Linked DNA regions of Homo sapiens. The protein of the gene in region 3 purifies or fractionates together with the protein of the main gene of each other region. This does not show direct contact. Each region holds a gene or a part of one and is shown on either strand. Other genes may lie near its edges. The genes, in order: SLC12A4, GUCY1B1, OR6T1, UBQLN4, ESYT1, FNDC3B and TSPAN10.

The links.
Region 1: the proteins of OR6T1 (region 3) and SLC12A4 purify together in Homo sapiens (affinity purification with mass spectrometry; one large-scale study listed by BioGRID and IntAct). This does not show direct contact.
Region 2: the proteins of OR6T1 (region 3) and GUCY1B1 purify together in Homo sapiens (affinity purification with mass spectrometry; one large-scale study listed by BioGRID and IntAct). This does not show direct contact.
Region 4: the proteins of OR6T1 (region 3) and UBQLN4 purify together in Homo sapiens (affinity purification with mass spectrometry; one large-scale study listed by BioGRID and IntAct). This does not show direct contact.
Region 5: the proteins of OR6T1 (region 3) and ESYT1 purify together in Homo sapiens (affinity purification with mass spectrometry; one large-scale study listed by BioGRID and IntAct). This does not show direct contact.
Region 6: the proteins of OR6T1 (region 3) and FNDC3B purify together in Homo sapiens (affinity purification with mass spectrometry; one large-scale study listed by BioGRID and IntAct). This does not show direct contact.
Region 7: the proteins of OR6T1 (region 3) and TSPAN10 purify together in Homo sapiens (affinity purification with mass spectrometry; one large-scale study listed by BioGRID and IntAct). This does not show direct contact.

What each region holds. Positions count from the first base shown.
Region 1 is NC_000016.10:67,947,767-67,951,882, forward strand, and holds part of SLC12A4 (solute carrier family 12 member 4), read right to left. Parts: coding exon 4,057-4,116; intron 3,539-4,056; coding exon 3,374-3,538; intron 3,295-3,373; coding exon 3,196-3,294; intron 2,946-3,195; coding exon 2,888-2,945; intron 2,728-2,887; coding exon 2,553-2,727; intron 2,153-2,552; coding exon 2,034-2,152; intron 394-2,033; coding exon 295-393; intron 23-294; coding exon 1-22. UniProt on the Homo sapiens protein: Mediates electroneutral potassium-chloride cotransport when activated by cell swelling. May contribute to cell volume homeostasis in single cells. May be involved in the regulation of basolateral Cl(-) exit in NaCl absorbing epithelia.
Region 2 is NC_000004.12:155,803,774-155,808,680, reverse strand, and holds the end of GUCY1B1 (guanylate cyclase soluble subunit beta-1), read right to left. Parts: intron 4,089-4,907; coding exon 3,934-4,088; intron 3,579-3,933; coding exon 3,452-3,578; intron 2,296-3,451; coding exon 2,272-2,295; 3' UTR 870-2,271; downstream 1-869. UniProt on the Homo sapiens protein: Mediates responses to nitric oxide (NO) by catalyzing the biosynthesis of the signaling molecule cGMP.
Region 3 is NC_000011.10:123,942,143-123,945,606, forward strand, and holds OR6T1 (olfactory receptor 6T1), read right to left. Parts: upstream 1,697-3,464; coding exon 725-1,696; downstream 1-724. UniProt on the Homo sapiens protein: Odorant receptor.
Region 4 is NC_000001.11:156,036,799-156,040,298, reverse strand, and holds part of UBQLN4 (ubiquilin-4), read left to right. Parts: intron 1-3,168; coding exon 3,169-3,321; 3' UTR 3,322-3,500. UniProt on the Homo sapiens protein: Regulator of protein degradation that mediates the proteasomal targeting of misfolded, mislocalized or accumulated proteins.
Region 5 is NC_000012.12:56,134,401-56,138,516, reverse strand, and holds part of ESYT1 (extended synaptotagmin-1), read right to left. Parts: coding exon 4,089-4,116; intron 1,774-4,088; coding exon 1,624-1,773; intron 1,300-1,623; coding exon 1,144-1,299; intron 1,019-1,143; coding exon 842-1,018; intron 686-841; coding exon 603-685; intron 492-602; coding exon 443-491; intron 335-442; coding exon 245-334; intron 114-244; coding exon 18-113; intron 1-17. UniProt on the Homo sapiens protein: Binds calcium (via the C2 domains) and translocates to sites of contact between the endoplasmic reticulum and the cell membrane in response to increased cytosolic calcium levels.
Region 6 is NC_000003.12:172,346,728-172,350,843, forward strand, and holds part of FNDC3B (fibronectin type III domain-containing protein 3B), read left to right. Parts: intron 1-484; coding exon 485-634; intron 635-4,116. UniProt on the Homo sapiens protein: May be a positive regulator of adipogenesis.
Region 7 is NC_000017.11:81,639,838-81,643,953, reverse strand, and holds part of TSPAN10 (tetraspanin-10), read right to left. Parts: intron 1,695-4,116; exon of another isoform or gene 1,648-1,694; 5' UTR 1,542-1,647; coding exon 1,506-1,541; intron 1-1,505. UniProt on the Homo sapiens protein: Part of TspanC8 subgroup, composed of 6 members that interact with the transmembrane metalloprotease ADAM10.

The DNA.
Region 1 (4,116 bases), on a different chromosome or scaffold from region 3:
CATGCCCAGGAAGGACAGCGCCCTGGACGAGAGGGGAGGGCAGAGTCAGGGCAGGACCAGGAGGACCCCTGGCCACAGCCTGGCCCATGCCCTGGTAGCCCTGTCAGGTCCCGGGTGGGAGGTCCCAGGTGGGTGGTCAGGTCACTGGGTGTAAGACCTAGGTCCAGTCCCCCGCAGCCCTATAATCTCCCTCCCCACAGTGTTTCAAGAGCTCCCTACCCAGGAAACCCAAGCCTCACCCAGAATGAGGCTCCTGGCCTCCCCAGGGTCTCCCGTGTCAGAGGCATGGCTCACCAGTGATAGTACTTGAACCGGGGCCGCCAGTTGGGGGTCCTCAGGAGTGTCTGCACCGCACAGGCGAGGTTCACGAACAGGTAGCACATCAGAAAGAACCTGCGGCACAGAGGGCGGTTGGCGAAGAGCAGCCTCCTCGGCAGCTGGGGACCTGATGTCAGGCTGGGCCTGGCCCAGAAACGGGGCGTGGCCCGGCCCTGCCCTGCATGGCTCAGCAAGGTCTTCTCAACCTCATTGCTGCCACCTCCATGGCCTGAGGCAATGAGACTACTGTGGAGGAGTCCTCGGAGCCAGATCGCAGAGGATGGGCAAGGGTTTGCTGTTGGAGGAGGTAGGAAGGGGAGTAACAGGGCAGAGCTGAAGAGGGTGGTGCAGGGGCAGCAGGAAGAGCTCAGTGCCTGGAGACTCTAGGCCACATTCAGGCCTCTGGCCTGAGTGACCAGCTGGATGAGAGGCTGCCATGCATGAAGGGGAGGATGGAAGATAAGCTGGACCATTTGAATGCAACCAGTCAGAGATACTTAAGAGTCACTGCGGTGGGCGTGGGAGTCCCACGCATGGGCAGGGCCAGCTGCATGAGCCCTCCAGGAAGGCACCCGAGGACGGGTGCGCAGGAAGGCAGGAGGACCCACACAGGGCATGCCAGGGGGCAGGGGCTCCCAGCAGGAGGCCCGAGATAAAGGCTGAGATGTAGCCTCTGATTTGGGCACAAGGGGGGTCACCACCCAAGATGGCTGTGGCAAAACAGTTTCAGGTGTGCTCTTGGGTGAGAGGAAGGGGTGTGGGGGGGTGGACAAGAGGGTGCTGGCTCCAGCAGGCCTGGCTGTAGCTGGGATGGAGCCTGCTCAGGGGTACAGGGCCCCTGTCAAGTCTGCAGGCTGAGTGGGCAGGGAAGAGGAGGCCTTTCATAACCGCACAAGCAAGAAGGAGCGTCAGCCACGGAGCAGGGTGGGCGAGGACCCCAGCCTGGACAGAGTCAACCAAACAAGCGCTGCCTCGGGGTCCCTGGGAGTCACCACATGCTGGCCACTCCCTGCAAGGCACTGGCACGCAGATTTGCCTGGCTGATTCCAGAATGTTAAAAGCAAATGACTTTGAAAATGGATGGGTTGGGCATGGTGGCTCACGCCTGTAATCCCAGCACTTTGGGAGGCCGAGCCAGGTGGATCATCTGACGTCAGGAGTTCGACACCAGCCTGGCCAAGATGGTAAAACGCCATCTCTACTAAAAATACAAAAAATTAGCTGGGCGTGGTGGTGCATTTCTGTAATCCCAGCTACTCAGGAGGCTGAGGCAGGAGAATTGCTTGAACCCAGGAGGCGGAGATTGCAGTGAGCCAAGATCATGCCATTGCACTCCAGCCTGGGTGAGAGAGTGAGACTCTGTCTCAAAAAAAAAAAACAAAAACCAAAAAACAAACTAACAGATGGAAGGGGCAGCAGTGGCTTCATGGAGGCATGAGGGACGCGGTGGTTGCCCTGTCCAGTGGGAAGGTCTGCCGGCCACCTGCTCTGGGGGCCTCAGGGAGGTGTGGACATATTGGTCACCTTATAGCTTTGGCATAGGTGCCAGGCTTGCTCCTAAATGCAGGGGTGGGCTGAGCCCTGTCAGGCCACATCTCCCCATGCAGCCTGCCACATCTCCCAGCTGGACCTCCAACACCAGACGCAGCCACGGGGAGGTGCTGGGGTTCAGGAAGCCTTTCCCCATCCCCCTGCCCTGCCCGGCCCCAGCTCACATGGATAAGATGGGGGCCACCATGTCGAGGGAGGCGATGAGGATGCCCAGCTCGGCGATGAGTGCCGTCAGGAGGAGTGCCCATGTGGGTTCACCATTCACCTTCCCGTGGCCAAACACCTGTGTGCACCAGGAAGGAAGCTGGGTCCTGTCACCCCCATTCCACACCTTGGGCCCCAGACCCCAGCCTGGCCTCCCTCACCCCCAGGGCCCGCCTTGGGGGCTCAGGCCGCCCCTGTGTCTATCCCTATGGGTGTCACCAGTCTCCCTGATTCCACCTCACCAGGCCTCTCTCCTTTGGATGAGCCCTAAACAGGCCATGAAGATTCTGGGTCCAGGCAGCTCCAGGCCCAGGTGAGTGCCAGGCCCAGGGCACTTCTCAGTAGCTCCTCATGGATGGCCGCCTGGCCCCGGGGGCCAATAAGGGCAGGACGTGCTGCATCTGTGTTCCCTATCTCTCTCCCCAGCCGGGCGAGGGCCTGGGAGCAGCCAGGCCATGGGGGAGTGCAGAGGGGCTCACCCGGAGGAAGGGGATGATGTTGTCCTTGGCAATGGCCTGCAATAGGCGTGGTGCCCCTGTGAGGCTCTGGAGGCCAGCGCCACACGTTGAAAAGAAGGAGCCGATGACGATGACCCAGGGTGAAGGCCAGGCCAGTGTGCCCACCACCAAGTTCCTGCTGACACCATCGCCATACCTGCAGGGGCCACCAGAGTGAGGGATGTCAGGGGTCCGGAAGGATGGCACAGACCACCAAAGGCAGCCAGCAGGCTTAGGACCACCCACGGGGTTGGGAGCTGGTGTGAGGGCAGGCCAAAGCCCAGCCGCTGCTAAAGAGGGGGGCCCAGCTCACTCACTTGTCCCGGAGAACCACACCCTCAATGCAGGCACCAAAGAGAACCACACTGCTGAAGTCTGCGGCGGCGTCAAGGAAAACTCGGCCTCTGCCACCCCACTGTCCCTGAATAGTACCACGTGCCCCCACCCCAGCCAGACTACCAGGACACCTACAGCTGGGAGTCTCGTGGTGTGTATGTGCATGTGTGCATGAGAAGGGGAGCTATATATGAGTGTGTGGGGTGTCTGTGCATGTGACCTGGCAACGTACACAGGCCAAGCGCTTCCCGTCCTCTGCCCCACCTGCCCCAGGCCTGGGAAAGGATACACACGAGGGAAGTTGTAATGATGGCCAGAATGGTCCCCACAGGGATAGACTTCTGGGCGTCACGAAGGTCCCCAGAGCGGTTTGAGCCAGCCATGATGCCTCCAAAAACAGATGAGACTCCCTCAGGGGCTCCCCGGGATTGGGGACAGGGCTGGGTGGGTAGGCAGGCAGGGCTCACCTGTTACAGAAGGGAAGAAGATGCCGACCAGCACGGTGAAGGATGTGGCGATGTCAGCGACCACGTACAGAGGCAGGCTCTCCTTCAGGCTCGGGGCATCTGCGGAGGGCAGCCCATGCTTCTCCACGATGTCACCCTTCTCCAGGTAGGCGCTCCACAGGTTTTCTGCAGGGGTAGCTGTGTCACCACCACAGCTGCCCCCCACTACCCCAGGTAGTTTGGGGCAGCCTAGCCAGAGGCGCAGATGCAGGGCAACTTTGGGGACTCAGGGAACAGCTTCAGCCCAATGACTGCAGCGTCAGCCACAGGGCTACCCTGACCACAGAGAAGGAGCTGCCCAGCTAGAAGTCGACAGACAAAGGTGGCTGAACCACCGTCACCCAGAGCCCGCCACTGCCCGCCTTCCACAGAGGCCTTTATGGATCCTGTGGGAACATCCCCAGGCAGTGTCAGGGGCTGGTGGCTGGGGAAGACAGGCTGCTGCAGGCCTTGGACGCTGGCCAGACAGGCTCCACTCACTCCAAACTCGGCTGCCAGGAGCCAGGCTGGGAGGACACTGGGGGGCTGGGAAGGCGGCCAGTCCTGCCCCCGTTCCCAAGCTGGCCACACAAGGACAGCTCTGTGCTCTGTGCCCCTGCTCAGCCTGTGGGCTCAAGAGCAAGACGACGGGAGGGAGGACCCACCCTGGAGCACACCAGCAGCTGCCCCGGGGATGCCAGGGATCTCGGTCACATTGTTGAGCA
Region 2 (4,907 bases), on a different chromosome or scaffold from region 3:
GTGTAAGAGGAACTAATTTAGCCATAAGAAACTTAAAGCCTAATAAGGAATCCTATATATAAACAGATAATATGTGAACCATTGTAAAGATCCTGGGACAATAGGGGAAGCTAAACTTTCCTAACAGGGAAATTTCCAACAAGAGGATATTGAGCTGAGTCTTAGCAAGAAATGAATTTGCAGCAGAGTATGGGTAGAGGGTATTCAGACAGAGCAGAGCATAGAATTACAAAGGTAGCAACTAGCAGATAAGGCTGGTTAAGGTGACAATGTTTACATGCTTTGCTAAGGTGTACAGACAATGAGTAGCATTTAAGTGATTGTACGCAGGAGAGCAATTTGGATTTGTAAAAGACCACTCTGGCAGCAATTTGAGAGTGTGGAATGGAGGTGGCAAAGGTAGGAAATAGACAGATTTATAGGGAAGATCTTGCAATTGTTCAAGTTACACATGATGAGTGCCTGGACTTCGAAGAGTGTTGGCGGAATAAAGTAGAGATTTAAAAACATGCAAGATGTAAAAATTGGAATATGAGGTATTCAAAGGCAGAGATGTTTTGTTCAATGACATTTCTCAAATATCTTGAGCAGTACCTACCCAAAGTAGATGCTAAATAAATATATGCAGGATTCTGGGAAGATGACAGTGTCAATGTAGTTTCTGAGTATTCCTAACTCTCCCCCCAAAATAAGCATAACAACTATCCCCACTTCACCTCTTTTCTTTCAAGTTACTCTTTCTCTAAGTATTATTTCTGCATTTGAATATATTTCTTCATTATGAATATCGCATATTTTCATTACTTGTATACATGTCTATCATCCCTAAATGATTCAGAGCTCTTTAAATAAGCTGATGACATTCAATATTTAACTGTTTCCCCTTTCCATGCCCAGTCTTTATTTCCTGTCACTCTGTTGGTATTAAAAAGAAATATAGCATTTAAGAATATGCTGTCTATGAGGAGTCAGTGAAAATTTATAATGGTAGCAAATAGGCAAAATTGTAAAATGTATTTACAAAATAATGGCATTAATAAAATGAAAAATAATGTTAATATTTTTATTGAAATAAAAACTGTATAGAGACACGTGAAAAAAATAATTTATTACAGACTCTTTTACACATTAACATGGAACATTTATACATATATCGATGTGCTGATATGAAATACTAAATTTAAAGGCAAACATTTTTACACAAAAGTAGTTGCACTCTATTTTATAAAGATAGATATTAATAAGTTATCAGAGACATTTAAGAGCTAGAGGCCAATTATTCCAACAGTAATGCATTCTATGCTGAAAGTAAACTAAGTTTTCTGAACATGATGTCCTGGATATAATCACATTCTTCTAAGCTAAGGAAAGGGAGCTCATTTCTGGGAATACAAGGCCAAGAAGGGCTCTAACAGCAGTATCCCAGCAGTGTGTTTCCAGATTTATTCTTGGATGTGGTTGGAGCTCCCAACATTTAGCCTGAACTAATGTAACAGCTCAATGTGAAACAATGCAGCTTTCTGTAACAGCTGCCTGTGGTTAATGAGATTTAATACAGGGGATACAGTTACAAATGATAGCATTTTAGAAGAATTATAATTGCCATATGATTTGAATTAGTAATCAAATACTTTAATAACAGAAACGTGTATTCTATATTTCTGAAAGGGAAGTAGCATACTTCAAAATAGTCACTATTTTCTTAGCATGATATGTTAATTCTTACTTTGGGAGTCTGAAAATAAATTGCATTTTTTCCCCTAAAACTTAGAATTCACTCCTTTAGAAAATGATTTCTATAATGATATACACCAACATGATATAAACTTTATTACATTATAGTCATTAAAATATACATATACATATATGTGGAACACTAAACAGATTTGGTAAACATGATATAAATATACACATGGCCAAACACTGTTCAGTTTCATTTAACTAAATTCAACAAATATTTATTGGGTGCCTACTACTTGCAGATCACCATGTTAGGTAATGCTTGTAGTAGATTTTAAGACACATGAAGCTCACATCATCCACATCAAAAGCCAAACTTTAGATAATATACTAAAGCCTAAAAAGTAATAGAAAGCAGAGCTAAGGTTGAATAACGGATAGTGAGAGATATATCTAGAAGAAAGTCTTGGGGTAATGGACAAGGACAAAAGAAAATCTGTATCCATAGGGAAGAACTGCTCCTGGGCTTGGCACGTGTTAGGAGAAAACTGGAACCTAGTCTGTACTCCTCTTCACCCCATAATCCAAGATTCAGTCATCATCCTGCTTTGTTTCCTTAAATAGGCAGAAGAAAAGAGGGATTGATTTACAGTGATAGTGAGGTTTATAATATCAATTAAATATATTTTTCTCTTTATGAGAGTGTGATCCACGTTCACATCTACAGTTTCTGTAAATCATTCCCACCATAATTCTGGGAAAAACAGGACCGCACGACTAAGATGACCAATGTTTGAGGTAATTACGGCTTAGTTTATCAGAAGAACATCAATAAGCATGTCCACCTCATAGGAAAATGATTTAATGTTAAACCAGGTGAAAGAAGATAAATATTTCAAACCCTGGCATTCTATTCCCTTTAGAAGTTGTTATGCCCTAAAAGCATCTTTAGAGAGTTTATACACACTAAAAGAGAAATATGAGCATGCAGTCTTATCCCCCATGAGGAAACAACACATCAACAGGGTAACAAAGTATCAAACTTGCTTCTGATGCCACTCCTTACAAAAGGCTAGGAAGAGGCTAGCCATGATCTTAGTGTGTGCAAGGCCTCTATGAGAGGTGTGATTCCACTTTGGATGTGCCACTGTTCTGAAGTCCATTCTAGCACATGGGCTCTGCCTGGAGTATAACCATAGTAGTAGAAAGAACTTAAATCTTCCCTAAGGAATTAATCAGATTCTAGCAAGTTAAAAATCACTCATCTATCTAGGAGAAACACATGAGGGACTAGGATTTCCAAAATTCCCCAATCACTCCATAGAAAGATAGCCTGCCCCTTAAAAGGATCTTAAGCTTCATGGTTAAGAAACCTCCCATGAACCACAGCCCTTATCTGTGGTGATCTCAGAGCCAACTTAGAGAGCTGAGGAAAGGGGTCAGGGGAGCCCCTCACAGCCCACTTACCTTTGAGCCAGACTACAGAGGAAGAGCAAAACAACCACAACAGCAAGAAAAAAAGCAGCCTTCTCAATCCAGTCTGTTGGTTTTCATTTCATTAGAGGACAAAAATCACTAAAGTATCCCCTAAAAAGTACTTATGATTGTAATTGGCTCATTAATGTTCAATTATTTCCACTGCTTTACTTAGAAGTTAATTTCTGTTAGCAAGAATTCTTTTCAAATGAAATACATTTTCAGTGATTTTGCTTTAGTTTTCCATACTTATACTCTGTCTTAAGTACGCAAATTACACTTTGATTAGTCATACCTCTGTTCCTGTATTTTTTCTGGATAGAAACCAAACTTGCATTGGTTCTTTTTTGCCCTTCATGGACACTGGGCCTCTGTGCTCCAAGTGGAATTGTGGATCTGAATTTTCTGGAGACATAAGACATCTAAAAGACAAGGGAAGGGGAGTAGAGAGAGAAGTATACACAAGTTTTATAGAGAAGGTGACATGTATCATGTTATAAACCAAGATGGCAAGAACAAATGCTGAAGTTGTACTGAAAGGTAACTCAAAGCTTTAGAAACAATGATCATATCAGGATTTCCTAAGATGATGTGAAATCATATAAAATGGAAATAATGACACAATCTTCTCAAATAAAAAGTAAACAACTCTACAAGCAGTGGGGAAGAGTGAAGGTGATAACTCTGTTAAAGCAACAAAATCTCTCAGAGAATTAAACCACATGCAAAGACACATTTTCTTTGCAAATCAGTAAATACCAAGACATTTTCTCTCACCTGTATGTATATTCAGACACATTTATTTTTCCCTTTTCTCCTGTGGTTTCTGTTCGGCTTGTGAGGTTGACAGTATTCCCAAAAAGACAGTATCGAGGCATCCGCTGTCCTATGACACCTGTAACTACCTCTCCAGTGTGTATCCCTATTGTTATCTGCAAAAAAGAAAGCTTTGCTTCAATCATTTTGATCACTAACACATGAATTTTTTTTTTTTTATTTTACTTTAAGTTCTGGCATACAGGTGCAGAAGGTGCAGGTTTGTTACATAGGTATATATGTGCCATGGTGGTTTGCTGCACCTATCAACCCATTATCTAGGTTTTAAGCCCCGCACGTATTAGGTATTTGTCCTAATGCTCTCCCTCCCCTTGCCCCCAAACTCCCAACAGGTCCCGGTGTGTGATGTTCCCCTCCTTGTGTCCATGTGTTCTCATTGTTCAGCTCCAACTTATGAGTGAGAACATGTGGTGTTTGGTTTTCTGTTCCTGTAACACATGAATTTTTGCTTACTTTATATTACAGAATAATGTAGAGTCATCATATAACATCGTAAGAGATGTCTATAAGAATTTCAAGCATATTATGGACAACTTCAAAAGCCCTCCATGAAATCTCTATCTCCCCAGGGAAATATCCTATCTCAAGAGAAACATTTGAAGTCTGAAGATTTCAAAGATGTGAATCTAGTAACTTACATGAGACATGAAAGAGGTTTTAAAAAATAAACTAGAAGGTACAAGAGGTTTTTTTCTCATCCCCATGACTTTCAGTACATGAAACGGACTAGATAATTTCAAACAGGTAGATAAATCTCCATGTCTATGAAAGAATGTAGTACAGTGGGCTGGATGAAATGCTATAGTCTTTGTTGTCAAGATGCCCTTCTTTATACACGTTAATGATTTTCCGGACAACGATATGAATCAATTGTCCAAAAAGGTTTACATACCATTATTACAATATCTACTTCA
Region 3 (3,464 bases):
GCCTTGCCATATTAGAGATTTAATAATATTTCTTAAAGGAATGATTAAATGAGTGTTGCCATATTTCAGTTTGTTGCCATATTTGAGTTTGTTAGTAGAGTTTGACTTAGGAATTAGGGCTATCCAAATATTTCACTGGTCTTAACATTCTTCCTTTATGAGATTCCTATAGGAGCTGCTAGTTACATAAGGAGCAATAACAAATGCAAATCAGAGAACCATTTATTACTGCAGCCAGAATTTGATTTTCTAATAATACAGAGGTTCTGGTTAATTTTATTTGCAGTACCCAGTCTAGTTGGAAGACCTCAGAGACCCTCTTACTCCCCACTGAGCTCCAAATCTGAATCTCCATATTTCAGCATCTTCTGATTGGCTACATGACACAGGAGACTGAGGCAGTAAGAAAAGTGTTTAAGCACACACGAAGAGAAGGAGGAGCCTCCCTGTATGCGGGTCACGTGCTCACACATGCTCTCCAATCCAAGGATTCCATCTTGAAAGAAATTTGACCAATTGGATCAGCCTTCTCTGTGGGGAGGAGGAGGCACAAGGAAGGTTGTAGGGAGGGAAAATGAAGGTTTACCACCGTATTTCATGTTGTATATTTATGAAGACTGTTCTTTCATTAGCTGAGAAAAGTGAACAGTGTTGCCTACATCCCTTAAACTTCTTGCACATTTAAAAAATTTTCAATAAACATTTAATCTCCCATTTAATAAGATCATTTCCTTTGACTTGTGACCCTCAGTTTCATCACAGCAGTGAGCCTGGGCCACCCCAAGGCTTCTCTCAGTGCTTGCTGCACCTTGTCATTGCGGAGAGTGAAGATGAATGGGTTCAAGAGGGGTGTGATGATGCAGCTCAGGACGGAGGCACCTTTGTTGAGCAGTTTGGACTGAGCCTCTGACATACGAATGTAGAGAAAGATGGAACTGCCATAGATGATGACCACCACTGTAAGATGCGAGGCGCAAGTGGAAAACGCTTTCCTTCGCTCAGCAGCTGTAGGGGCCCTGAGAACAGTGGCAAGAATGCAGGCATAGGAAACTGAGGTCAGAGCCAGTGAGCCCAGTAACACCAACGTAGAGAGCATGAAAGCCACCAGTTTCAGCAGGTGGGTGTCCCCACAAGAAAGCCTGAGCAAGGGCCAACTGTCACGAAAGAAGTGGTCAATACCATTGGGGCCACAGAAAGGCAGGCTGGCCATGAGGACAGTGGGGCAAAGGACCCAGAGGAATCCAGCTAGCCAGGAGGCCAGCACTAGTTGGGAACAGACATGGCCATTCATCAGGGTCTCATAGCGGAGTGGTCGGCAGATTGCCAGGTAACGATCCAGAGACATGACGGCCAAGAGGAAGAAGTCAGTGGTGCCTAGAAAGAAGTAGAGGTAGGACTGGATGATGCAGCTGACAAATGAGATGGTGTGATCCCCCGTGAGGATGACGACAAGCATCTTGGGAACCACAACAGTTACCAGCAACAGCTCCAGGAAGGAGAAATTCCGCAGGAAGAAGTACATCTGTATGTGCAGGCGTTGGTCTATCCAGCTGAGCACAATAATTAGCAGCTTGCCTGTGGCTGTTACAATGTAGGTCACCATTAACCCCAGGAACACCAGGAACTGTATGAGGTGGCTACTGGGGAAACCCAGAAGGACAAAGCTTGTTACCTGAGTCCAGTTTTCAGGGTTCATCTTCAGTCACCTGCAGGGGAAATGAAACAGAACTCTGTAACTGGTCTATAGCTACCAATCATCATTTAACCAATCGGTAAAATAATATTGAACACCCAACACTTCCTTACATTCTGAGAATATGTTGATCTATAGTTTGGTCTGCACGTGACTTACAAAGAGAGAAACAAATTACAATAGTAAGCAGCATGGCAATATTGAACATCAATTATATATCTGAAAATTTACACGGTGCACAGTATCTCTTCTCCTAGCTACTCTTAAAACTATGTTTTACTATTTTCAAAGATAAGAAAAGGATGACGAAGGGAGTTTAAGTGACTCTTCTATGATCAGGTAGGAAACAGGTGGTAGAGGCAGGATTTCATACTGAGCTTCTGTGACTCCAGCACATGCTGCTGATACTGTTGAGCTCAGGCAGAGAACCGTGTGAGTAGTGTGGCTTTAGACGAGTCCAGAGGAGTAGAGGGGTCAGAGAAGACTTCACAGAACAAATGCACCATGAACAAATTTTACTGGTATTAAGAACTCTCATTTTAGTGTTTATGGTCCTTCTGTGTCCTGGCTTGACATAAAATAACAGAATTTAAAAATCTGGGCTCTCGGTATACTCAGAGATTTAATTTTCATTAGTCAGCCATGAAGCCAAATAGGACCGGATTGTGCAAAGCCCAGTCCTGTCATAAAGTGTTATTTTTCTTTTTTCCCCCAATCCAGACTCCTGTAGAATGCTAGAAATCCTTCTTCCTTGTGGAATGCTTACTAGCTTCTCTTACCTTCAGCTTGCTCAATATTCTAATAGTATAAAATGAGGAATAAGGGAGAATGGTCTCAAAGGAGATGGTATATATCAACTTGCCTTCTCAACTTTTGCCTTAATTTGGAGATATGTTCATCTTGTCCTTGGAGCTTTTGGAATCCTGTAAAATGTATCCACATGTTTTGAAGGACTGGATTTCATTAGACAATTAGATATCTTGGGTTCTTTTTTTTTTTTTTAAACATCTAGCACCAAATACTCAGAATCACATAGATTTGGCCTAATCAGGGAAAATGGAAAATGTTCTAAGACAAAAAGAATGAAAATGAGCATCAAGTTACATTGTTTAATTGACAAGGAATGAAGTGTTGAGAGTTTAGACAGTTTAACTGAGGAATATCTATTACTTCAGACCAACAGTGTTAAAGACGAGGAGCACAGATATTTTCTCAATTCTGTCTGAAGCTACTTTAACAGATAGTATTGAACTGAGGCAAGAAATCCAGGTTTGAAGGATATTTCTGTTCTGTTTACATCAATTTTGGAAAGAATAAGTCTGGGATTTAAGTAGCTAAGTAATAATAATGCTTCATTCTGCTAGTCTAGGGCTTGTGTCTCCAAAATCAAAGAAATACCATAATAAAACCCAGCAAAGGAGGCCAGAGCACTGTTTCAGGATAACATAATCATTTCAGATAAGGAAAACATGCTACTGTGGCTATTTCCAAAGCTTTGGTTAAATATTATTAAAAGTAACTTATAAAGTCCGTCAAACACACAAAATCAGTTTCTGGCTACTGTGATAAAATACATGCACTAAAGTCTGTTCTCTAGCCTCTCTTTGTCAACCTGAATAACTGCTTATCAGTTCTGGAGAGCCTCATCAGTTGGCTGGCTGTCTCTCAAAATGCCAGACCATAACACTATCATCCCTGTATACGCATGTTTACAATTTTGTCATTTTCAACCTCAAAATAATCTTAATGCTTTAAATCATTTGCTTAATGT
Region 4 (3,500 bases), on a different chromosome or scaffold from region 3:
TCAACCTCCCGAGTAGCTGGGATTACAGGCACGCGCCACCACACCCGGCTAATTTTTTTGTATTGTTAGTAGAGATGGGGTTTCACCATGTTGTCCAGGCTGGTCTCGAACTCCTGACCTTAGGTGATCTGCCTGCCTCGGGCTCCCAAAGTGCTGGGATTATAGGCGTGAGCCACCACACCCGTCCAGAAAGGGCTTTTATACTGCAAGTCAGGGGGCCTTAGTGACTGACTTTCTCTGTGACCCCAGGCAAGTCCTGTCTTTTCTCTGGATCGAACATTGTTCCTTTCAACACCAGGTGGACGGTGCTTGCTGGACTCTTTCTAGCTATAAGAGTCTTTTTTTTTTTTTTTTTTTTTTTTGAGACGGAGTCTCGCTCTGTCGCCCAGGCTGGAGTGCAGTGGCCGGATCTCAGCTCACTGCAAGCTCCGCCTCCTGGGTTTAGGCCATTCTCCTGCCTCAGCCTCCCGAGTAGCTGGGACTAAAGGCGCCCACCACCACGCCCGGCTAATTTTTTGTATTTTTAGTAGAGACGGGGTTTCACCATGTTAGCCAGGATGGTCTCGATCGCCTGACCTCGTGATCCACCTGCCTCGGTCTCCCAAAGTGCTGGGATTACTGGCGTCAGCCACCGCACCCGGCCACTATAAGAGTCTTTTGTTCATAATCAAGGCTTGTGCTTTCCAAATACCCCTTGGGCAAACATTTACAGGAGATAATTAGAGGAATGACAAGAATGAAAAGCCAAGCTAGCCAGGCGGTGGCTCACTTCTGTAATCCCAGCAATTTGGGAGGCCGAGGCAGGCAGATCACCTGAGGTCAGGAGTTCAAGACCAGCCTGACCAACGTGGAGAAACCCCGTCTCTACTAAAAATACAAAATTAGCTGGGTGTCGTGGCGCATGCCTATCATCCCAGCTACTCGAGAGGTTGAGGCAGGAGAGTCACTTGAACCTGGGAGGCAGAGGTTGTAGTGAGCTGAGATCGTGCCATTTTACTCCAGCCTGGGCAACAAGAGTGAAACTCCATCTCAAAAAAAAAAAAAAAAAAAAAAGCCAGGCCAGGAGTGTGGCTCATGCCTGTAATCCCAGTGCTTTGGGAGGCCAAGGCAGGGGACTGCTTGAGGCCAGGAGTTCGAGACCAGCCTGGGCAACGCGGGGAGACCCAGTCTGTAAAAATTTTTTTCTTTTAAAAAAAGTCTTAGTGCAAGCTGGGCATGGTGGCTCATGCCTGTAATCCCAACATTTTGGGAGGCCAAGGCGGGTGTATCACTTGAGGCCAGGAGTTCAAAACCCACCTGGCCAACATGGTGAAACCACGTCTCTACTAAAAATACAAAAATTAGCCGGGCTTGGTGGCATGCACCTGTAATCCCAGCTATTCAGGAGGCTGAGGCAAGAGAATCGCTTCAACCCGGGAGGCAGATCATGCCACTGCATCCAGCCTGGGTGACAGAGCGAGACTCCGTCTCAAAAAAAAAAAAAAAAGAAGAAGACCTAGTGCAGTGGCTCATGCCTGTAATCCCAGCAGTTAGAGAGGCCAAGGCAGGAGGATCACTTGAGACCAGCCTGGGCAACATAGCAAGACCCTTTCTCTGCTAAAAAAATTTTTTTCTTTATTTTTTATTTTATTTTTATTTTTTTGAGATGGAGTCTCACTCTGTCCCCCATGCTGGAGTGTTATGGCACAGTCTCGGCTCACTGCAACCTCCGCCTCCCGGGTTCAAGCGATTCTCCTGCCTCAGCCTCCTGAGTAGCTGAGACTACAGGCTCCTGTCACCATGCCCAACTAAGTTTTGTATCTTTAGTCTCGGGGTATCGCCATGTTGGCCAGTCTGGTCTCGAACTCCTGACCTCAAGTGATCCACCTGCCTCAGCCTCCCAAAGTGCTGGGATTACAGGCATGAGCCACCACGCACTTTTGTTTTTTTAAGATGTACTCTGTCTTCCAGGCTGGAGTGCAGTGGCGCAATTTCAGCTCACTGCACCTCCGCCTCCCGGATTCAAGTGATTCTTCTGCCTCAGCCTCCCAAGTAGTTGGGACTACAGGCATGCGCCACCACACCTGGGTAATTTTTTGTGTTTTTAGTAGACATGGGGTTTCGCCATGTTGGCCAGCCTGGTCTTGAACTCCTGACCTCAGGCAAACTGCCCATCTTGGCCTCCCAAAGTGCTGGGATTATAGGCATGAGCCACTATGCCCAGCCAAAAAAAAATTTTTTTTTAATTGGCTGGGCAAGGTGGTACACACCTGTAGCCCCAGCTACTCAGGAGGCTCAGAGAGAAGGATCACCTGAGCCCAGGAGATAGAGGCTGCAGTGAGCTATGATTCTGCCACTATATTCCAGCCTGGGTGCAAGACCCTGTCTCAAAAAAAAAGGAAATACTTCTCTTTTATAAATAACTGTTGATCAGTGAAACAAAATTAAATAGCTTCTTAACTGGGACCCTTCTCTAGCCTTTCATATGGCTGTACGTGTGATGACTATTAGGAGGGGCCTTGGAGGTCATGCTTAGTATGCATCTTATTTGACCATAGAACATTTGGCTTTTGGAGTGCCTGTTAACATCTCCAGTGTTTATGGAAAGTAATGAGGAATATATGCTGATCTAGGCCTATCAGTTATCTTGAAAATCTAAAAAAGATATCCGCCTGCCATATTATTACACAGTTTTGTTTGTTTGTTTTTTTGTTTTTGTTTTTTGAGACAGAGTCTCGCTCTGTTGCCCAGGCTGGAGTGCAGTGGCGCGATCTCGCCTCACTGCAAGCTCCGCCTCCCGGATTCACGCCATTCTCCTGCCTCAGCCTCCTGAGTAGCTGGGACTACAGGGCGCCCACCACCACACCCAGCGAATTTTTTGTATTTTTAGTAGAGATGGGGTTTCGCCGTGTTAGCCAGGATGGTCTCGATCTTCTGACCTCGTGATCCGCCCGCCTCAGCCTCCTAAAGTGCTGGGATTACAGGCGTGAGCCACCGTACCCGGCCATTACACAGTTATTTAGGACTTGGGACCTAGGCTCCTGGGCCCCCATTTGCAGCTCATCTTCCCTGCCCTCCTGATTGACTCTGAGGATATTAGAGAAGACCTGCTGGTCTTAGAAACCCTTAATTCAAATAGGGCCCCCAAGATTGGTCCTGTGCCCACTTCACAAGGCCTGTCCCCTCCAGGTGCAGACGCCAGAAGTGAGATTTCAGCAGCAGCTGGAGCAGCTCAACTCCATGGGCTTCATCAATCGTGAGGCTAACCTGCAGGCCCTGATTGCCACAGGAGGGGACATCAACGCAGCTATCGAGAGACTGCTGGGCTCCCAGCTCTCCTAATCCCTCGGCCCATGCCTCCTGCCTCTCCCCTCCCTCGATGTCAGCATTCGGTTCTTCTGTCAATCCTTACCCTCTGCAGCTTGTCCTCCCTTCCGTCTTCTCCCTCATCCTTTCCAAACAGCAGGGTGACTTTAGAGGCATGGGCTCCAACCCCTTAGCTCTGTCTGAGAATTATGGTT
Region 5 (4,116 bases), on a different chromosome or scaffold from region 3:
GGGGAGCGGGATCTCACCGGGAGGTCCTCTGCCCGCTCCATATAGATGGATAGCAGGGCCGCAGCCAGCTCCGCACTCTTCTGAGTCTGGATCAAACTATTCACCTGCAGCACCTGTGGAGGGGCACACGGGGCTGGGGAGTGGTAACTGACACCTTGGGTTCTGGCATGTGCCTTGAACGCTAAGAGAAGAGCTCATCCTGCCCCACCTTGGGTCCCTTCCTTCCTCAAGTCTCCTGCCCTACCTCCTCTAACTCAGCAGCAGTGGGACGGGGGGTGAGACGCTCCAGGCGCAAGTGCAGGCGGCCAGATGGGACATCCTCCAGGGTCAGCCACTGTGGAAGTAGGCAGGGTGAAGACTTGGGGATATGCAGACAGGAGAACTTTGAGAATGAAGCTTGGGCAGGATCAGGAGGGGTTGTTGACTCTAATTCAATGCTCACCTCATCAAGGAAGCCACTGTTTAAGACTGTGGTGAGACGCACTTTACACCTGTTGAAGAGAAAGATTAAGACAAAAGCTAGATGGTGAGAACCAAGGAGGCCAGACTCCATGGCCTAAAGAGCCCCAGCCTGTTTTTCACGTAGACTCCTATGCTCTCACCTGCCCAGAAAATCATCCTTGTCCAAGTCCTTGTCAAAGACTTCAACCTCTAGCTCTTGGCCTGGAACTGATGTGACGATCACCTAGTGGGAGAAAATAGTGCAGATGAAAGATTCTCTCCTTTTCCTCTGCAAATGACTGGACCCCCCAGTCAACTGAACCTCAGAGGTTTCTGGACCACTTTTGGGATTGGGGGAAAAATGGGGCAGAACCAGGAGTCACAGCCACTCAATTCTGACCTCAAAAACCTCATTCCAGCGGGGATTGAGATCTTCCCGAACAACATGGCTCCGGAAGCTTCGTCCTGCCAACTTTAGTTTGACATAGGGGTCTGACTTGCCCTTCACCAGTCCCCCCAAGAAACGGTCTTTGGCAATCAGGTCCTGGGCCTCTAATACATGGATCCGAAGCACATGCTGCAAAAGGGACGGGGGGGTGCCAGATGGCAAAGGGAGAGAGACCTGTCAGAATCTGCCCTGAAACAGGCTTTGCATACTTAGCGGGGCAAACAGACCCTAGTCCTTTCCAGATATAGACTCACCTCAGTCCCAAACTGGCTATCAGGAGTCGTGTGACAGGGTCGAGGTGGGGCATCCACACTGCTGCCTCTCTGGGGATTCTCACTGTCCACGTCCCAAGCACCAGGACAACCAGGCACCGTGGGGAAGCATATTTCTGATGAATCCAAGTACAGGATCTAGGAAGGGTAGTATGATGCTGAATCAAAGAAGTGCAGCTCGTCACCAGCAGGCAAAGCATGTGGGGTGGGGTAGAGGAGGGGCTGTGACAGGGGAACTAGGTGCTGCCCTGGCTGGGCTCATCTCTACAGGGTTCCCTCCACACCCCCTCAACTCATAAGCCATTCCTTCCACCAGTCAGATCAATATATGTTTTTGTGCCTGCTTGGCACTTCTACATGTATTAGCTCTTTTAATCTTAGGGGGGTCCCTTTCCTTACTCTTAATACCAAAGAATCAACAGGCCTTTCCCCCACACCTCAGTACCTCCTCTATTTCCATACCCTCATGACTAGTTTCATATAGAGTCTGGAGTTTGGACCAGAGCTGCTGAGCTGGAACCACTGGTCCAGGATGAGTTCTGGGGCAGTCAGCAGGCGGGCCAGAGGCAGCGTCAGTGCTCCTAAAGTCAGGGCCCTGGAATCATCCTTCACCTACAGGCACAGGAGGAAGGACTGTAGTGAAGGGATTAGGGGAAAGGGAGGCATACTGTGAAAATGATAACATGGCTCCAACTTCATTCCTCTCTGTACCAATCACAAACCTCCTGCTCCACTCAGGGCCATCTTTTTTTTTTTTTTTTTTTTGAGACAGAGTCTCACTCTGTCGCCCATGCTGGAGTGCAATGGCGCCATCTTGGCTCACTGCAACTTCGACCTCCTGGGTTCAACCCATTCTCCTACCTCAGCCTCCCAAATAGCTGGGACTACAGGCGCATGCCGTCACGCCCAGCTAAATTTTTGTATTTTTTAGTAGAGACAGGGTTTCATGGTGTTCCCCAGGCTGGTCTCAAACTCCTGAGCTCAGGCAATCCGCCCACCTCGGCCAGAGCCATCTTTTATAGTCCTCTGCCCAATCCATGGCCCCTTCCACCTTTGTTCATTCTGCTCCCACTATTTGGAAAGTCCTCATTCTCTTCCCTCGGCCTATTTAAATCCTACTCATCCTTCAAGACTCAATTAAAATCCAATTTTTTGCTTCACAAAATCTCCCTAGTTACTCCAGCCTATCCCTTTCTCTGACCCTCCTTAGTCCTATACTATGGATATTTTACTCCCACAAATTCATATGTAATTGTTGCTATTCTTCTGTTCCTTTTTTTTTTTTTTTTTTTTTTGGAGACAGAGTCTTGCTCTGTCACCCAGGCTAGAGTGCAGTGCTTGAAATCAGCTCACTACAACTTCTACCTCCCGGGTTCAAATGATTCTTCTGCCTCAGCCTCCCAAGTAGCTGGGATTACTGACACATGCCACCACACCTGGCAAATTTTTGATTTTTTTTTTTTTTTTGAGACGGAGTCTCACTCTGTCACCCAGGCTGGAGTGCAGTGACGCTATCTTGGCTCACTGCAACCTCCGCCTCCCGGACTCAAGCAATTCTACCTCAGCCTCCCAAGTAGCTGGGATTACAGGCACGCACCACCATGCCTGGCTAATTTTTGTATTTTTAGTAGAGATAGGGTTTCACCATGCTGACCAGGCTATTCTCAAACTCCTGACCTCAGGTGATCCACCTGCCTTGGCCTCCCAAAGTGCTAGGATTACAGGTGTGAGCCACCATGCCTGGCCTTAGTTCATATGTACTTGTTCTTGAATGATTTTATATGTGTATGTCTTGTCTATGAAACTGAAACTGGCCAGTGAGTATTGTGAAGGCAGATACTATGTTTTGTGCTTTTTCTATGACCTTTAAAATGCTGAATGTTGGGCCGGGCACGGTGGCTCACGCCTGTAATCCAAGCACTTTGGGAGGCTGAGACGGGCGGATCACCTGAGGTTGGGAGTTCGAGACCAGCCTGACCAACATGGAGAAACCCCGTCTCTACTAAAAATACAAAAAAAATTAGCCAGGCATGGTGGCACATCCCTGTAATCCCAGCTACTCAGGAGGCTGAGGCAGGAGAATCACTTGAACCCAGGAGGTGGAGGTTGCGGTGAGCCGAGACCACGCCATTGCACTCCAGCCTGGGCAACAAAAGCGAAACTGTCTCAAAAAAAAAAAATGCTGAATGTTAGCAATTTTATTGAGGCATAATTTACATACCATAAAATCACTCATTTTAGGTACCGTGCCCAGCCTCAGAATAATTTTTGTATACCTAAAATGAGTGATTCTATGGTATGTAAATTATGCCTCAATAAAATTGTTAACATTCAGCATTTTAAAGGTCATGGAGAAAGCACGAAACATAGCATCTGCTTTCACAATGCTTACTGGCCAGTTTCATAGACAAGACACACATATATAAAATCATTCAAGAACAAGTACCTATGAACTAAGGCCAGGTGCAGTGGCTCATGCCTATAATCCCAGCACTTTGGGAGGCTGAGGCAGGCGGATCATCTGAGGTCAGGAGTTCGAGACCAGCCTGGCCAGCATGGTGAAACCCTGTCTCTACTAAAAATACAAAAATTAGCCGGGCATGGTGGTGCCTGCCTGTAATCCCAGCTACTCGGGAGGCTGAGGCAGGAGAATTGCTTGAACCCAGGTGGTGGAGGTTTCGGTAAGCCGAGATCGCACCACTGCACCCCAGCCTGGGCAACAGAGCGAGACTCCATCTCAAAAAAAAAAAAAAATATTATTCTGGAGCGACAGTTGGGGAACAATGGAGAGATATTCAGGGAGGTGGGGAGTCTAGGTAGATGGATTAAAAATAGGAATCAAGGGAAAAGAAGGAGAGGAGAAATGGTACAGATCTGGGAAGTCAGAATAGGGTATTCGGGAGGGGATGAAGAGGTGATTATCTCACTTGCACATCGAGCTCCTGGCTTTGAGGG
Region 6 (4,116 bases), on a different chromosome or scaffold from region 3:
AGTTTCAATCTTGTCACCCAGGCTGGAGGGCAGTGGCACAATCTCGGCTCACTGCAACCTCTGCCTCCCTGGTTCAAGTGATTCTCCTGCCTCAGCCTCCTGAGTAGCTGGGATTACAGGTGCCCACCACCATGCCTGGCTAGTTTTTGTACTTTTAGTAGAGATAGGGTTTCACTGTGTTGGCCAGGCTGGTCTCGAACTCCTTATCTTAGGCAATCCACCCACCTCAGCCTCCCAAAGTGCTGGGATTACAGGCATGAGCCGCCGCACCTGGCCCTATTTTATTTTTAAATTTCTAAATCTCAAAAAAAATTTTGTGGGTACATAGTAGGTATATATATTTGTGATCGTGCCTTTCTTTTATATGTATTTGAAATATTCTGGGGCATGTTGCTCTCTTTCCCATTTTAGTTAATTGAATACAAGCACAGTAGGATTCTCTTCTCAGTGGCATTATTAACTACTTCCATTTCTGCCTTTCCAGAGTCCTGATAGTTCTGGTGCTGACATCTCAGAGTACAGGTTGGAATGGGGAGAAGATGAAGAATCCTTAGAACTCATTTATCATGGGACAGACACCCGTTTTGAAATAAGAGACCTGTTGCCTGCTGCACAGTATTGCTGTAGACTACAGGTAGGTTGACATTATTCAGATGTTACTCACAAGGACTGCTGTCCCATGAAAGGCACTTTGGGAAACCCACTCAAAGGCTTGTGGTGGAGGCTGTCAGGAGGGATGATATGGAAAAAAAGAGTCCATTTAAATAAAAATATATTTGGTTGTTTTGGTGTTTTGCAGTTAATTTCCACTTCTCTAGGAAATTCTGAAACTTAAGAACAAAATAAGATTCTTCTCCATTCTGCTTCTCACCACCCTTGTATCTTGTCTGTTCATCAGTTTGCTGAATAAATGACCCAAGTCCAAGGGAAAGATGACACAGCTCCTTAGGGAAGGAGCCTTCTGTCTCATTCCCCTGAGATGTACATTTCAGTGGGAAAGACTCTTAGAACTGGTAAAAGACAGAAAATTATTTTACGAGCTGTTAAATGGAGCCAAAAATAATCTGGACTAGTCTGCATTAGATTACAGGACCCCACCTCCCACCTCCCAGTGACGGTTATCAAGGCTGGTTATCTATAAGCTTCCACTTGGGAGTCCAGATAGAATAACATCAAGAAAAATTGGTTCATAGCCTAACCCCTCAGAGTGACAATAACCATGGGTTTACTTTTATTTTACTCTCTTGGCTATATTATTATTTTTTCTGTGTAAAGCCTTAGTCTCTTGAGAAAATAGAGTTCTTTGTCCTCCTCTTTCCATTTGTTCAGTAACATTTCTTGAGCATTATAGTACTTTGTACCAGGATCAAAGGAAGATCAGGAAGAGAGATACAAAGATTAATCAGATGTGGTTGTTGACCTTGAAGAGCTCTGTCTTCATACACATTTAGATTTGAATAGATAAAGAAGCAAAGATGCCAAAGTCAAGTTCCCACCTGATTTAAGTCATGGATCAAATTCGTTATTATAAGTACACCCAATGTCTCTGGTCTCTTTGGAGAAAATATTCGCTTCATAACTTAATTTTTCAGATCAACTGAAGCATTTCTGTTAAATTCAGAAGTCTGCTGTATTTGAAACATTTCTGATTAAACTCTTTTGTTATACACCTTTCTTGCTTCTCGAATGAAGCACCTGGGACATAATTAACCTTTTGACAATGAGTCAGTGTCACAGCAAATTGTCTGATATTTATAATAGTGATGCTGAGTCACTGGGGAAAGGTTAAATTATGTGCCACACTCTTGTTTTTCTACCAAGGCAGGATATAAATAAAGAGCTGTCTGCCACCCCAGTAAAGAGCTTCACTCCATTATGGTTTTTGAGTTTTGGTGTTTCTTTAAAATGTTATTATATCTCCTTCTCTTTCAGAGTCTATGTTGTCTTAGCATTGACTTCCCAAAGCTGCATTATAAAAGATACATTAATAAGAATAGTACCTGCATAATCTTGCCTCGTTGTATTAACAGGAGTAGAAATATATTTTCAAAGGTCTGTGCTTATTTATAATAAAATGAGTCAGATCTTATGAAGGGAGTACTACTTTTAAGATTACCATTGCCACACTAAAGGACTATTGCCAGGAAGGGGGTCTGTTCAAACTATACCAATTTATTGTTATTTGTGGACCAAATATGAATTATTTTCATTCAACATGATTACAAAGTCAAGTTAAACCCCAATATTTTTTGAATATATGGCACTTAAGAATTTAAATATTGGCCGGGCATGGGGGCTCACACTTGTAATCCCAGCACTGTAGGAGGCTGAGGCCGGCTGATCTCTTGAGCCAGGAGATAGAGACTAGCCTGGACAACATAACAAAACCCCTCCTCTACAAAAAAAAAAAATACAAAAATTAGCCAGGCATCTGTAGTCCCAGCTGCTCAGGAGCCTGAGGCAGGAGGATCACTTGAGCCAGGTCAAGGCTGTAGTGACCTGTGACTGCACCACTGTAGGCCAGCGTGGGCGACAGAGTGAGAGCCTGTCTCAAAAAAATAAAAATTTATTATAATACCTGTACTGTGTTTTATAGAAATGTGGTGGAACATTTCTTGTTTTGCTCAGGAATTTTTGAATTTTTGTATTTTCAGGACTGTTTTAATTAAGTACCAACGTAATTCCATTCATAGGGCATGTTGTATATTATAGGCATACTATTATTTACAAAAAGTTGATTTTGAATTAAATTTCATTTGAAAACTGTTAATAAAAAGTGGTGTAAATCAAGAAATGTTTTCCATAGAGCCAAGCTAGTTAAAAAGAAAGTAGGATCCTGCAGTAGAAAAAGAACATTGGAAGAATTGGTAAGATTCTGATTAGGTCTGTATGTTAATAGTATAGTATCAGTGATAATGTTTTTCTTTTCTTTTTTTTCTTTTTTTTGAGATGGAGTCACGCTCTGTCACCCAGGCTGGAGTGCAGTGGCGCGATCTTGGCTCACTGCAACCTCCGCTTCACAGGTTCAAGCGATTCTCCTGTCTCAGCCTCCCGAGTAGCCGGGATTACAGGCGCCTGCCACCACGCCTGACTAATTTTTGTATTTTTAGTAGAGATGGGGTTTCACCAGGTTGGCCAGGCTGGTCTCGAACTCCCGACCTCAGATGATCCACCCGCCTCAGCCTCGCAAAGTGCTGGGATTCCAGGTGTGAGCCACCGTGCCCGGCCACCAGTGATAATTTCCTGGTTTTGATCATTATTCTATAGTTCTGTAACATGTTTCTCTTCGGAAAAGCAGAGTAGGAGATAGACAGAAATTTCTCTGTACTATTTTTGCAACTTTTCTGTAAGTATAAAAGTAGTACACAATAAAAAGGTGTTTGAAAAAATAGAGAAAATACTATTTTGTTCATAATTTTCCCAGTGGGAAGGAAGAAAGTGTAGCTCCTACTGTTGGCCTGATACTCTGCCAGCATTTTACATATTAACCGATTTAATCTTTACTGTAATTCTATGAATTAGGCATTACTGTCCCCATTTTACAGCTGAGGAAACAAGCTCAGAGAAATTAACTAACCTAAGATCACACAGTTGTTAAATGATGGAATCAAGGTTTGAACTAAGCTTCAACTCTTAAAAGCCATGTTCTTGTCCTTCTGTGATATGGTGATACAAAGCCCTAGTTGATAGAAACATTGGGCTCCATGATATCCTATTTTTCTGCCCCTGTGATACATTTATATCAGTACCAAAATCTCGAAATACATACTTATAAAATAATTTGTCATGTTAAAATTTTTCCAGAAAGAGAGTTGAGGTATTGAGGTATTGTAATGAAACAGAAGTGGGTATGACAAAATGTTGCAGTAGAGTTTCAACTGTGATTTAATAGCAAATAAATGCTTTAAGCCTGCTTCTTTGAAATTAACAAAGGAGTTATAAGTTTTGTTTTAGACCTTGATTTAAGAGCTCAAACTTAGCTGGGTGTGGTGGTATGTGCCTGTGGTTCCAGCTACTCAGGAGGCTAAGGTGGGAGGATCACTTGAGCCTGGCAAGCAGAGGTTGTTGCAGTGAGCTGAGATTGCGCCACTGCACTCCAGACAGAGACAGACCCTG
Region 7 (4,116 bases), on a different chromosome or scaffold from region 3:
GCAGGAGAATCGCTTGAACCCAGGAGGTGGAGGTTGCATGAGCAGGAGGCAGAGGTTGCATGAGCAGAGATCGCGTGACTGCACTCCAGCCTGGGTGACAGAGCGAGACTCCATCTCAAAAACTAAATAAATAATAAAAAGCAGCCATGGCTGTGTGCTGGGCAAGGATCCCATTCCAATCCAGTTTCACCAGGAAGAAGCTGATCACAGCATCAGGCTCTCAGCTCACTGCAGCCTCAAACTCCTGGGCTCAAGCCATCCTTCCTCCTCAGCCTCCTGAGTAGCTGGGACTACAGGCACTGCAACCATGTCCTGGTAATTTTTTTTTTTTTTTTTTTTTTTTGAGACGGAGTCTCGCTCTGTCGCCCAGGCTGGAGTGCAGTGGCGGGATCTCGGCTCACTGCAAGCTCCGCCTCCCGGGTTCACGCCATTCTCCTGCCTCAGCCTCCCAAGTAGCTGGGACTACAGGCGCCCGCCACTACGCCCGGCTAATTTTTTGTATTTTTAGTAGAGACAGGGTTTCACCGTTTTAGCCGGGATGGTCTCGATCTCCTAACCTCGTGATCCGCCCGCCTCGGCCTCCCAAAGTGCTGGGATTACAGGCGTGAGCCACCGCGCCCGGCCGTCCCGGTAATTTTTTAAAATTATTTTTTGTAGGCCGGGCACGGTGGCTCATGCCTGTAATCCCAGCACTTTGGGAGGCCGAGGCGGGTGGATCACGAGGTCAGGAGATCGAGACCATCCTAGCCAACATGGTAAAACCCTGTCTCGACTAAAAAAAATTAGCTGGGTGTGGTGGCATGTGCCTGTAATCCCAGCTACTCAGCAGGCTGAGGCATGTGAATTGCTTGAACCGAGGAGGCGGAGGTTGCAGTGAGCCGAGGTTGTGCCACTGCACTCCAGCCTGGTGACAGAGCGAGACTCTATCTAAATATATATATATATATATATATATATAATATTTTGTAGAGACAGGGTCTCGCTACATTGCCCAGGCTGGTCTTGAACTCCTGGGCTCACGCAATCTTCCCTCCTCAGCCTCCCAAAGTGCTGGGATTACAGGAGTGAGCCACTGTGCCCGGCCCCAGAGGAGGGTTATTTATCACCCCCAAGACCTCAACAAGTCACTAGAAGCAAAAGGACAGGCTGTCAGTGCCTGGTTGGCCAGACTGGGGCCACTGGGGGCCAGAGGCCGTTGGAGGCTGGCTGCAAGGGACATTTGCCTTCACCCCCTCCTGCACCCTGAGCCAAAGATTGCCCCCAAGGCCCTCAGGGAGATCTGGCAGATCCCTTGACCAGAGGCCAGCATGGGGCTGAGAGAACTGCGCAGTGGGGAAGGGGGAGGGGGCTGCCTAGAACCACCCCCCTCAACCCAATCTCAGCATTGAGGTGTGGGGTGGCACCAGGGGCAGGGGTGGGTGTGAACCCAGCCCAGGGACTTCCCTTAGGACTTCAGGGCTGGGGACATCTCCAACCTCAGGGCAAGGCCACTTGGCATGGCTCACCTGGGACAGTAAGGGGCTCCTCTCCCCCTCCTCCATCCTTGACGCTGGAACAGAAAGCCCCCAGCACAGGCGCCGGGAGAGGTTCGCTGGCTCCTCTGTGGCTGGGCTGCTGGGCTGGTCCTGACTGCGGCCCTGGGCTAGTCTGTGAACAGTGCAGCCCTGGGCATGGGAATGGGGGAGGTGCGAGCCCTACCCAGATGCCGGAGTCACAGTTGAGTCATGTGAAGAATCACATTTTAGAGCTTAAGGAGGCCTCTGCTTGTGGAGATATATTTCTCCCCAGCCCTGGCTCTGTGGGTCCCCTAAGCTCAGCGCAGGTGTGACTCAGGCAGGCATGTTTGGGTGCCAGCCTTGTGGCTCTCACTGCAGCCCCCCATGCGGACTTCAGCTCTGCAGGGTCAGCAGCCGCTCCATCAGCTCCCAACCAGGGAATCAGACCCTGGTAAATTGGTTCACAACCCCAATCCCAAGAGACCCATGGGCAGCCCCAGCGCCAATCTATCCCCCGGCTTGTTCACTGCACGAATGAAACAGCGTCCCCCCACCAGATCACCTCCTTGTTTTTGTTTTTGAGACTGAGTTTCGCTCTTGTTGCCCAGGCTGGAGTGCAATGGCGCAATCTCGGCTCACTGCAACCTCGCCTCCCGGGACTACAGATGTACGCCACCTTGCCTCACTCATTTTTGAATTTTTTTTGTAGAGACAGGGTTCTGCTGTGCTGCCCAGGCTGGTCTTGAACCCCTGGACTCAAGTGATTCTCCTGCCTTGGCCTTCCAAAGTGCTGGGATTACAGGCTGGAGCCACTGTGCCCGGACTCAGCCACCAACACTCAGCAGTCCAAAGAGGTGGTCTGGGTGGTGCAGCACAGCAGGCAATGTACTGATGGAGCAGGCAGAGGGTTTCAGGCGCGCGTGAGACGCCTGGGTGGGAGCACACCGGGCAAGTTTTAGGAGGAAAGGTCACCTGGCTGTGTGGGGCAAGCGGAGATGGGGGTGGGAGGGAGGTCCATGAGGTGACAGGGCTGGATCAGGTGAGGCCTTGAAGGCCACTCTGAGTCTTCAGATCTTCCTCGGAGAAGTGGGATATGCTGCAGGTGGGAAGTCGGGGCGAGGACCAGAGCTGCAGGCTGAGCTTCTGGGCTCCAGCTTCCCTTCACCTCCCCAAAGGTGACAAACCCAACCTCATGGGCCCTGCAGCAGCTCCACAGCCAGGGTCACGGTCACAGGGACTGTCCACGGCCTCCAACTCAGTCTGTTCTAAGGATGGGTAACCTTTTTTTTTTTGAGACAAGAGTCTCGCTCTGTTGCTGAGGCTGGAATGCAGTGGCACGATTTTGACTCACCGCAACCTCTGCCTCCTGGGTTCAAGCGATGCTCCTGCCTTGGCCTCCTGAGTAACTAGGATTGCAGGCGCCACACCTGACTGATTTTGTATTTTTAGTAGAGATGGGGTTTCACCATGTTGGCCAGTCTGGTCTCGACCTCCTGACCTCAAGTGATCTGCCCGCCTCCTCCTCCCAAAGTGCTGGGATTACAGGCGTGAGCCACCACGCCCGGCCAAAGTCTGGGTAATCTTTTAATGAAACGATCATCATCTACCACTGTTATGGCTGAATTGTGCCCCTTACATTCTTATGATAAAGTTCTAGCCCCCCGGACCTCAGAATGGGACTTGGAGACAGGGCCTTTAAAGGCCATTAGGGGCTGGGCGCGGTAGCTCACACCTGTAATTCCAGCACTTAGGGAGGCCGAGGCAGGTGGATCATGAGGTCAGGAGATTGAGACCAGCCTGGCCAACATGGTGTGACCCTGTCTCTACTAAAAGTACAAAAAATTAGCTGGGCATCGTGGCGCATGCCTGTAATCCCAGCTACATGGGAGGCTGAGGCAGGGGAATTGCTGGGACCCAGGAGGCAGAGGTTGCAGTGAGCCGAGATGGTGCCGCTGCACTCCAGCCTGGTGACAGAGCAAGACTCCATCCCTAAATAAATAAATAAGTGCCATTAGCGTGGGCCCTAATCCAACATCCTTACAAGAAAATTGGGACACACGGTGGGACACATGGAGAGACACGAGGAATGTGTGCACAGAAGAAAAAACATGTGAGGTCTCGGGGAGAAGGTGCCATCTTCGAGCTAAGGAGAGAGGTATAAGAAGAAACCTGGCTGGGTACAGCGGCTTATGCCTGTAATCTAAGCACTTTGGGAGGCTGAGGTGGGTGGATTGATTGAACCTAGTAGTAGTTAGAGACCAGCCTGGGCAACATAGCAAGATCCCATCTCTACTAAAAATACAAAAAGTTAGCCAGGTGTGATTGTGAGCACTTGTGGTCCCAGCTACTGAGGAGGCTGAGGTGGGAGTATCACCTGAGCCTGGGAAGTCGAGGCTACAGTGAGCCACGATTGTGCCACTGCACTCCAGCCTCGGCGATGGGAGTGAGACCCCAGTCTTTTCTTTTTTTTTTTTTTTTGAGACGGAGTCTTGCTCTGTCGCCCAGGCTGGAGCGCAGTGGCGTGATCTCGGCTCACTGCAAGCTCTGCCTCCCGGGTTCACGCCATTCTCCTGCCTCAGCCTCCCGAGTAGCTGGGACTACAGGCACCCGCCACCACGCC